Regions from separate parts of the Homo sapiens genome. Here region 1 is linked to region 2. The links come from fine-mapping of genetic effects on gene expression. A gene starts in region 2. The other region holds a variant in brackets. All regions are shown on one strand. Distances are from middle to middle. Region 1 overlaps GRB10 (growth factor receptor bound protein 10). Region 2 holds the start of GRB10 (growth factor receptor bound protein 10).

Region 1 (4,383 bases), 58 kb after region 2:
CCTTGTCTTCAGCCTTCCACCGACTCTGTGAATTGGGTACCTTCATGATACCCATTTTATAAATGAGAAAACTGAGGTTTTTACTATATGCTGGTCATCATGCTGAGGACTTTACTTGGATTTTCTCTCCTGCCAATGCTACGCGGTGGGGACCTTCATGTTCTCCCCTTTGCAGATGAGATTATCAAAGCAGAAAAAGACCATCTCTCCTACTGAGTAACAGAGGTACATTCGTCTCTGTGAAGTGTGTTTATGTTTAATGTTGGTGAGACTGAGGAGAACAAGTTTTTGTCCAAATGCCAAAATCTCCTCCTCAGAATTATTATAATAAAACATAGAATTTGTATCCTGCAATTTTGGACTTATTGAATTTCTTTGATCATGAAATGCCATAAGTCAGTTTTAACAACAGCTTTTCAGTTGAAATAAAGATTATTATGTATTGTCCCTAAATGTGTCATGTGTGCTGATCGTAAGGTGTTTGCATTTTTAAAATGTTAAAATGGGGAGTGGGGCATGTCTTAAAATCAATGAAATATGACAGATAAGTAAATAAATGGAAATAAAAATACATAAATATGTATATATTTATTCTCAGTGCTTTTCTTTTTAATGCCTAAATCTTCTCAAACATCATCATCCTCAAGTATGGGCTTAAAGTCTGATTTTTTTTGAATAATATAAACAACTATATTTATCACATATTTTCTATGTATTATTTTTGTTTTTTGTTTTTTTTGAGACAGAGTCTCACTCTGTCACCTAGGCTGGAATGCAGTGGCCCAATCTCAGCTCACTGCAACCCCCACCTCCCGGGTTCAAGCGATTGTCCTGCCTCAGCCTCCCGAGTACCTGGAATTATAGGCATGCACCATCACACCTGGCTAATTTTTGTATTTTTAGCAGAGATGGGGTTTCGCCATGTTGGCCAGGCTGGTCTTGAACTTCTGGTCTCAAGTAGTCTGCCCATCTCTGCCTCCCAAAGGTCTGGGATTATAGATAGGGGTGAGCCACTGCACCCAGCCTGTGTTATTTTTATCCTCTCTCTGGTACTGTGGCAAATATTCTGGATGTGTTATTTTTTCTATTTCTTTTTTCCAGGAAACCAGGGCTTGCAGATATTGGTAAGTTGCCCAAGGTCACACAGCTTGTAATGGGATAGATCAGGGATCAGGCGTACGGGGTCAAGCCTGAAGCCTATGTCCTTAACCATTCCACTGTCTGGTTTTTCCTTGGCACCGTGTGCTTGGCTGTGCAGATATCTATTTGATTGGGGGTGCTAGAGTTGATTATCTTTTTCATAAGATTTCATAAGCAGTGGAGGAGCAGAACACAATATTGGTCTATGACTTTGCACTGCCTTTTAGAAGGACATATCTAATCAGGGATACCTATATCCCACTTCTGTTTTCCTCCTACTTATCATGGGGGTTAAATCCCCACAGAAATATTTGTGTTCTTTTAATTTTCCATCCCATGAAAGTTCAATGTTAGTAATCAACTTTCCCTTTGCCATCTATCTGCCCAGAAGCTACTGTGAAATCACTTATCAAAGTCTTTGTTTTTGTTTTACTTATGAGACCAGATGGTTGCCTTTTCTGTTGTAAAGTGTCAAAGTTTCTACTAGACCTACAAAAACCAAAACTTACCTGCTGTGTGTGTGTCACTGTATTCGTCCACACTCACACCGCTTATAAAGAACTGCCTGGGACTGGGTAATTTATAAAGAAATGAGGTTTAATTGACTCATAGTTCCGCAGCCTGTACAGGAAGCATGGCTGGAAGGCCTCAGGAAACTTAAAATCATGGCAGAAGCAAAGGGGAAGCTGGCAAGTCTTACGTGGCTGGAGCAGGAGGAAAAGAGCACAAAAGGGGAGGTGCTACACACTTTCCAACAACCAGGTCTCGTGGCAACTTACTGTCATGAGAATAGCAAGGGGGACATCTGCCCCTGTGATCCCGTCACCTACCACCAGGCTCCTCCTCCAACCTTGGGGATGGACATGAGATTTTGGGCGGGGATACAAATGCAAACCATATCAGTCGCCATTACAGCAGGTAGGGCAGGCAGCAGGCAGGTAACCAGCAGAGCAGGCAGCAGGCACAGCTACCTTGCCGGGAGTGTTTTTCCAGGAGAGATGGCAGTATCAAGCGCACGCAGACTTGGAAAGGCATCATGGCGTACCTGGTTGGAGCATGAATCCTTGATTCAACTGTTTTCTTTGCACAGAGTCATATTACTTGATTACCAAAGGGAAGGGAACTCATGACCCTCAGGGACAGGCTGTTTATCTGTGGTCAGAAGATGGGCCTCCTGTAACATTGACTGTGCTCCCTTCTGGCCTTGTCAGTAACGCAGAGCAAATCACTTCCGTCTCTCTGCGTTTGAAGTTATGTGTCATTACCCAGCCAGCCCCCAGCTCCTTCAGGCATCCTTCCTTTGTCGGG[G/A]TTTGTGGCACTTTTTCCTGTTTCCTTTCTCCTGTCTTGCCTAGCCCTCTTCAAGGGGAAGGACCAGAACTAATCAACACTTCAGATGAGACTGACCAGCTCAGAGCTGGGCGGCTCACGCTCTCCCTTCAGGACCCATCCTCCCATCCCTCATTGTAGCACAATGTTGACTTTTTTGAAGGAAGGTCTCTTCATGCACCCACTGCTGTGTCCCAGGTCGTGTTTATTTCCAGTTCATGATAAGTAGAGACATTGAGAAAATGTGTTTAGAGATTTTATAGCAATTTGAATGTTGAACTTAAGAATAAAAATGTGGGTGTGTATCGTATTTTTGTTTTATTTTACTTTCTGGCAATTCATTGCTATGTGAGTTGTGAAGTATCCGTGCTTGACAGGTTGACAGGGACAGCAAAAACTGCTTCTTCCCCGCAGGTGGCTCCTGAAGCACTAGTCTTGGCTATCTCAGGATATCACAGTCATGCCTGTGGTTTTTCTGTCCTTGGCAGCTCCAGTTTGCAAAGTTGAAGCTTTGCGTTTATGACCCATTGTGGCCTTGGTGTGTCATTTGTGCATGGTGAGATTTCCTCAGGCGCTGCTGGAACGTGCGAGTCCACTGCCTCCAGCCAGTGGCGGATCATGGGGGACAGCATCTGTGCCCTCCCACTGTGTTGTCCACTCTTCCCTATAGGCCTGATGTGACTCCGCTGTGCTTTTGCTAACCGTCCTTAACCAGCTCCTTGCCACTGCACTAGGGCGTGAAGGTTGGAGGGTGCCTGTGGGTCCCTCTGTAGCTCTCAGTGTGACCTACCTCCCACCTTCCTATGTCTGTTTGCCTTGAGCAGCTGTTCTAGTCTTTTCTCCATCAAGAGTCTACACCGTTTTGGAGGGTCATGTGGCCAGCGGGAGGTGAGCCAGCCCAGGAGGCATGCAGGCCCCAGGTTTGAATCCCAGTACCGCTTCAGGCGTGTGAGGCTGACAGTTATACCTGCACTGTTATGAAATGAGAGCCTCCAGGGACCACCCAACTAGTGGGGCCTTAGGAAATCCCAGTTGACCAGGGGCACTTCGCTGGAACCCTGAACAGGGCCTTTGCTCCTGGGATCCAAGGGGCTGGATCGCTAAAAACCCTTCATCGTCTTCCTTTGCCCCCAGACTCTGGTTTAGCAGGCTCTGGGGTACTGGCTGAGGGGTTCATCCTTCATTTCCAGACCTCAGCTGAAACCCAGCTAATTTGTAAGATGGGACCAAACAACATTAGAACATTTCGTTCTTTGGACAATGAGGAAATGATTGGCAGTTTCTTTGTGGTTGCCCATTCTGGGAATACAGAAGTGTGTAAGACATAGCCGGGGCTTAAAGGATGTACCCAAGTAATAGAGGAAGGAGAATTGTACCTGTTGTTTAATGACTCTAAATAAGGAAACACCTGACCCCTCTGTCTGTGGACACAGAGTTGGAATTTGAGTCCTTCACTGCCAAGGACATCATTGCTTCACTGCAACTTTTCTCTTTTTTTAAAGAAAAAAAAGCTACTTGGTATTGTGAAAAAATAGCTATAAGGTTATATTTTGCTTTACTTGTCCCTTCAGAACTTCACTAAAAGAAAAGTAAATTTTATATAAATGTATTTTATTTTTCGACATTGTGAAGGTGTTAATTCCAATTAAATTGGTCTTTGAGGTCAGGTTCTTGGCATTTGCAGGGTACTTATATGGATTTTTCAGCTTTCTAAGGCGTAAATGTGGCCTTTGTAGCTTGTGCAGTATGAGGGGTGAGTGCCAGGGCATCTAGAGAAACAACTTAATCCTGAGAGCGCTATCTTTACCTAAGGTGGGTGAAATGGGATTAAAAATAACCCTACCCAAGGAGGACATTGAGGGCAGCTTCTGAGGAGAGGCTTTATGGAGAACAAGCTGTGTGTTTGGAGGCCAGGTA
Region 2 (4,383 bases):
GGGCCAGGGTTGCATCTGGGCTACATCCCTGCAGGTGCTGGGTGTACAGGCTCTTCAGAGCCCTGGTAGGAGGAGGCTGTGCTGCAGGACATAGGGGTCCCATCAGATGCGGCTCAATAGAGCTGTGGACAGGGCCCAGGGAGGTGAGGCATAGGAAGTGTTTGTCCCATGCAATTTGGCCACATCTTTCACCTTAGAGGCTTCGCTTAGCTGTCTGGGGTCTTCCCACTTTCAAAAGGACATTGCTCAGAAGCTGACAGGAGCCCTGTGTGAGTGAGCATTTAACTGTGGCCTCTGTGGATGGACGCCTGGTTGCTTGTTGTGGGGCTCATGCTTTTGGGTCTCTTCTCAGCTCTGCAGGAGCCTCTTTCAGTTCTGTTGGAGGTGCTGCTCCAGGAGCTGCTGGGGATGGTGGTGGGATTCATATGGCAGCTAGCATGTGATCCACCAAATCTTTCTGGGACTAAAGGCATGGCTGTGTCTGCTGATCCTGGTCCAGAGACCTGTGTCCCTGCTTCCAGAAAAGAAGTCACCTAGCTGATGGAGCTGGGGAGAGGACCCGGGATGAAATGGGGCCCAGCTATTCCTGACACTTCCGATTAATCTTCTTGTTTTGGACTCTACGTTTCCCATTTCCAGAGGTGAATGGTAGTTCTCATTCCTGAGACTTTCTGGGCTTCCACTGAGTATATCATCAGGCTTCATCTCCACTTTCCAGCTTAGCCTTCATCTCTTTTGCCTTTGCTGTCAGTTACTTCTTGACCACTGGCTTTTATGCCTTTTCAAAGATTCTGTTCTTGTTCTAGTAAAGCAAAATGTGTGTCCTGTCAGCCATTCAGTGAAGGTCTGGCTTTTCAAGATTCCTTGTCCATCATTAGATCATTTCTCTCTTGCTCTTCCCACATCCAGGAACAGCTGCTTCGAACTGGGACCTCTGGCATTTTGTAATAGAGGGGAGTGTGGCAGGGAAGCCCTCTGTCCTGCACAACCTGTTGTTCTAGCCCAGGAGATGGCAGGGTGCGTGGGATGTTCAGGCAAAGGAGTTCACCATCCAGGCTGGGAGCTGCTGGGCAGGGAGGCAGAGGAACACTCGAGCCACCTTTGTGGGGTTGACTGCAGAGGTGGAAGAAGCCACTGTGTCAGACCGCAGAAAAGTCTCATATCTGGAGTCTGGAAGGAAAGCCAAGTTCTCCCAGTCAGTAACCTGCTCTGGACTTTGGATAAGTTACATAATTTCTCCACACTTTGGTTTCTCCCCGAATCTCAGGGTTTGATTCTGTGCTTCCATTTCCCATTCTGTGCCTTGCGATGTTCACTATGTGACATCTTCTCTGAGGGGTGCGCAGTTAGAGTCAAAAGCGCTAACACCTTCAATGTTTCTTGCAGTAGCCAGGCCATATGTGGTCAGCCCGGACTGTGAGAAAAGAAAGCCTTGTGTTACCCTTTGTGTTGTGTTGAAAACTGCTCTTGGCTGCTTTCAGAACCAGCCTTAACTCTGCTTTTGTTTGATCGACTTAAACATATTGGAATTTTGTGGTCATGACCACCGTGGAACCTCTCCTTTTGGAGTGCATATCTGCACTTTTTCCAGCCTCCTCCTCCAGTGACCTTCAGGGGCCTGACCTGGCCTCCGAGCAGTTGGACTAGGGTAGCTTTTCCACTCTTTGAACCCCAGACTGAGATGGGGTTTTCCCAGCGCCCTGCCCCTTAACGTGTGTGAATGCAGTATAGGATCTCAGTTTCAGAATCCATTGTCCACTGTTGACTGTTAGGTTCTTACTGCTGTCTACAATGTCTAGCTTTTCCTACCATGTTCTCTGCTAGAGGGGAGTAGAAAATCTGCTTACTGCTTACTGTGGCCTTGTAAACGGCAGTGAATATCTCCAAACGTTCTGTTTTGCTTCCATCATTGCAGGCTCGTGTGTATGTCTGTGGTGTATGTGTGTGCGGGGGTGGGGGAGTATGTGTGATGTGTGTGTGTGGTGTATGTGTGTGTGTGGTGTGTATGTATGTGTGTGGTGTGTATGTATGTGAGTGGGTGGGTGGGATGTGTGTGGTGTGTGTGTGAGGTGTGTGTGGGGTGTGTGTGTGTGTGAAGTGACTAGCACATAGCAGATGCTTGGTATGTATAGGATCTGTTCTTTCCCTCGCTGACTCTCAGTTTAAATGGGACCCTACTTTGTCCTCGTTGTTCAGTAACGTTATGCCTGTGGCTTCCAGAAAGAGCCTCTCCCTTCCTGGTTCTTGCTCTGACATTTTGGGGAGAAGGGTGAGACGAGAGTGATCCTGGAAGAGTAGAACTGGCCGGCCCTGCAGGTGGAAGGTTGCTCGAGCAGGCGGCATCTCTAGCTTGCCGCGGCCGCGATGTCCCCCGCCTGTCTGCGAATGCGGCGTAGCGGGTAGACATGGAGGGCTTTCGGCATCGTCAGAGTGGCCAGTGTGCGCGTCCTTGCCCATCAGGCGGGGGGGCTGTGGGGGAGGAGAGGAGGCAGTGGAGGGAACAAGGGGTTCTTCAGGGTTGCCATGAGAACCAGGGATCCGGGGATTGGGCAGCAGAGGGCCCCCGCCGGGCGTTGGGGCGTGGCCGCGTCACATGGGTTTGGTCCTGGGATTCCTGTTGTGCTCCAGGACCGGGCGCTGCTCCGTCGTCCTCCCGCTCCTCAGGAGCGCCCAGTCCCTCGGAGGCTGAGTATTGCAGCCGGGCGGCAGCCGGCTCCGCGGAGGGGCCCCCGGGCACCTGCGTGGTGATGGCGCTGGGAGCCCCCGGGCACGCTCGGGCGGTGGCGCGGCATCCCACCCTCGCCCGGATGGCGTCCCCAGAGGCGGCGTTGGCCCGCTTTTCGTGCTAGCGCGTTCGCCTGGCGCGCGGTGGCCCCGAGGCCCCGGGTCGGTTTTCTGCGCCGCAGGCCCCTGGCCGGGGCGGAGCCGTGGAGGACCAGCCCGGCCCGGCTCCGAGCGCTGTCCATGCGGAGCGCTGTCCACGCGCCGGGCACTGCGGGGGCCGGGCCCCGAAGCCCTACCCGGGCCGGCGGCGCACACGCAGCGACCCCGTGCGGCCAGTGCTGCCGCCCGCTCTCCAGGTACTCAGGTGGGCTCCGCCGCGGGCGCTGGGCGGTGGGCGGTGGGCGGTGGGCGCGAGCCGGGGCGGCGGGCGGATCGGCCTGCGCAGGCTGCAGAGGCCCCGGCCGCGGCGGACAGGGCCCGGGAGGGAGGCGGGGAGGTCTTGCCGCGCGGCCCCCTGCCCGCCTGCCGCGGGCTCGCTGCAGTCCGAGATCCCGAGCTTCGTTGCCGCCAGCCATAGGACAGTATTATGTAACCATTTTTAATCTTAATTGTTTAATATTATGTAACGAGTAATAACTGTACCCACGGAAACCCGTGACGACGATTCGAGCGAACCTCGCCCGCTCCTTCCTCGCCAGGTGGTGGGCAGCGGGTGTGGGAACCGGTTTGGGAAATGAGTGGATCTGGGCATCCGGGCTACTGCACCGGCTTTTTCTGTGAAAAACATAATGCTAGAGCCTGCCTGGAATTCTCTTAAACCTGGATGGCATATAGTCCGGTATAAAAAAGCTTTGAGTAAACACGTATAGTCAACGTTGCCTCTTTCTCCATGAAAACCTCTTTCTCCCTGGAAGGTGCATATCAGACAATGTGAATTGAGCAGTGAAGATGTGGGCATGGGGTTCGTGTTCTTGATGGAGTTCAAAAAATTGTGCATATGAACACGTAGGACGTCCTAGCCCTTGCTCTTTAGAAAAACAATCGGATCACCTGTTCCACACGCCAGTCGCCTCCTTGGTCGGCTGCCATTTGTCTGTTGATGGTACAGTCCCTGCCAGGGTGCTGGGGGGACCTCGTCTGCGGAGCCGGCACACAGGTGGCTATGGGCGGGGGAGACTGCAGTCTAAACCCGCAAAGCTCTCCTTCCTAGCCCAGTGAGGGGAAGCGTGGGTGTCTTTCCTCATTGTTCTTTTTAAGTCTGAAAGGCAGCGACTGCAGGGATTATGACGTGCTGGCGGCCAGGGCCTCGGGTGCTGCCTGGAGTCTCCTGCGTGTCTCTGCTCCTTTGATGTCAGCATCGGGGGTGGGAGCAGGGCCCACGCATTCCCCCTTTGGCCTGGGTGGGAACAGGGGAGGTGGTGGGCAGGGCCAGAAGGGCTTACTGGGATTTTCTTTCTCTCTGTCACTCCAGAGAAAGGTGGTAAAGAACACTTGTTTCAGTTTGAGGTGCTCGGCAGCCACGCGCTGAAGGACGGTTTTTAATTGTAGGGTGGGGTGTGAGTGCAGTGTGGTTCAGTCCCCTCCCCATCTTGTGCTACCTGCCGTTGTACCTGGACCTGTGAATCAGGGATAATAGTTACTATCTTGTAGGACTGAGAA

The links. PIP is the estimated chance that this variant, and not a neighbour inherited with it, causes the effect.
Region 1: its variant is the best candidate, but not a certain one, in a credible set for the expression of GRB10 in whole blood (TOPMed, PIP 0.50).

The regions. Positions count from the first base shown.
Region 1 is chr7:50,722,754-50,727,136 of GRCh38, reverse strand. The region is part of intron 4 of GRB10 (growth factor receptor bound protein 10); the gene reads left to right. Among named protein-coding and RNA genes, the nearest start is that of GRB10, 58 kb to the left of the region's middle. RefSeq lists an enhancer at 629-798. The variant G/A (reference allele first, on the strand shown) is at 2,449.
Region 2 is chr7:50,781,121-50,785,503 of GRCh38, reverse strand. GRB10 (growth factor receptor bound protein 10) reads left to right here and starts at 2,608. Exons shown (of 19, transcript NM_001350814.2): 1 at 2,608-3,080.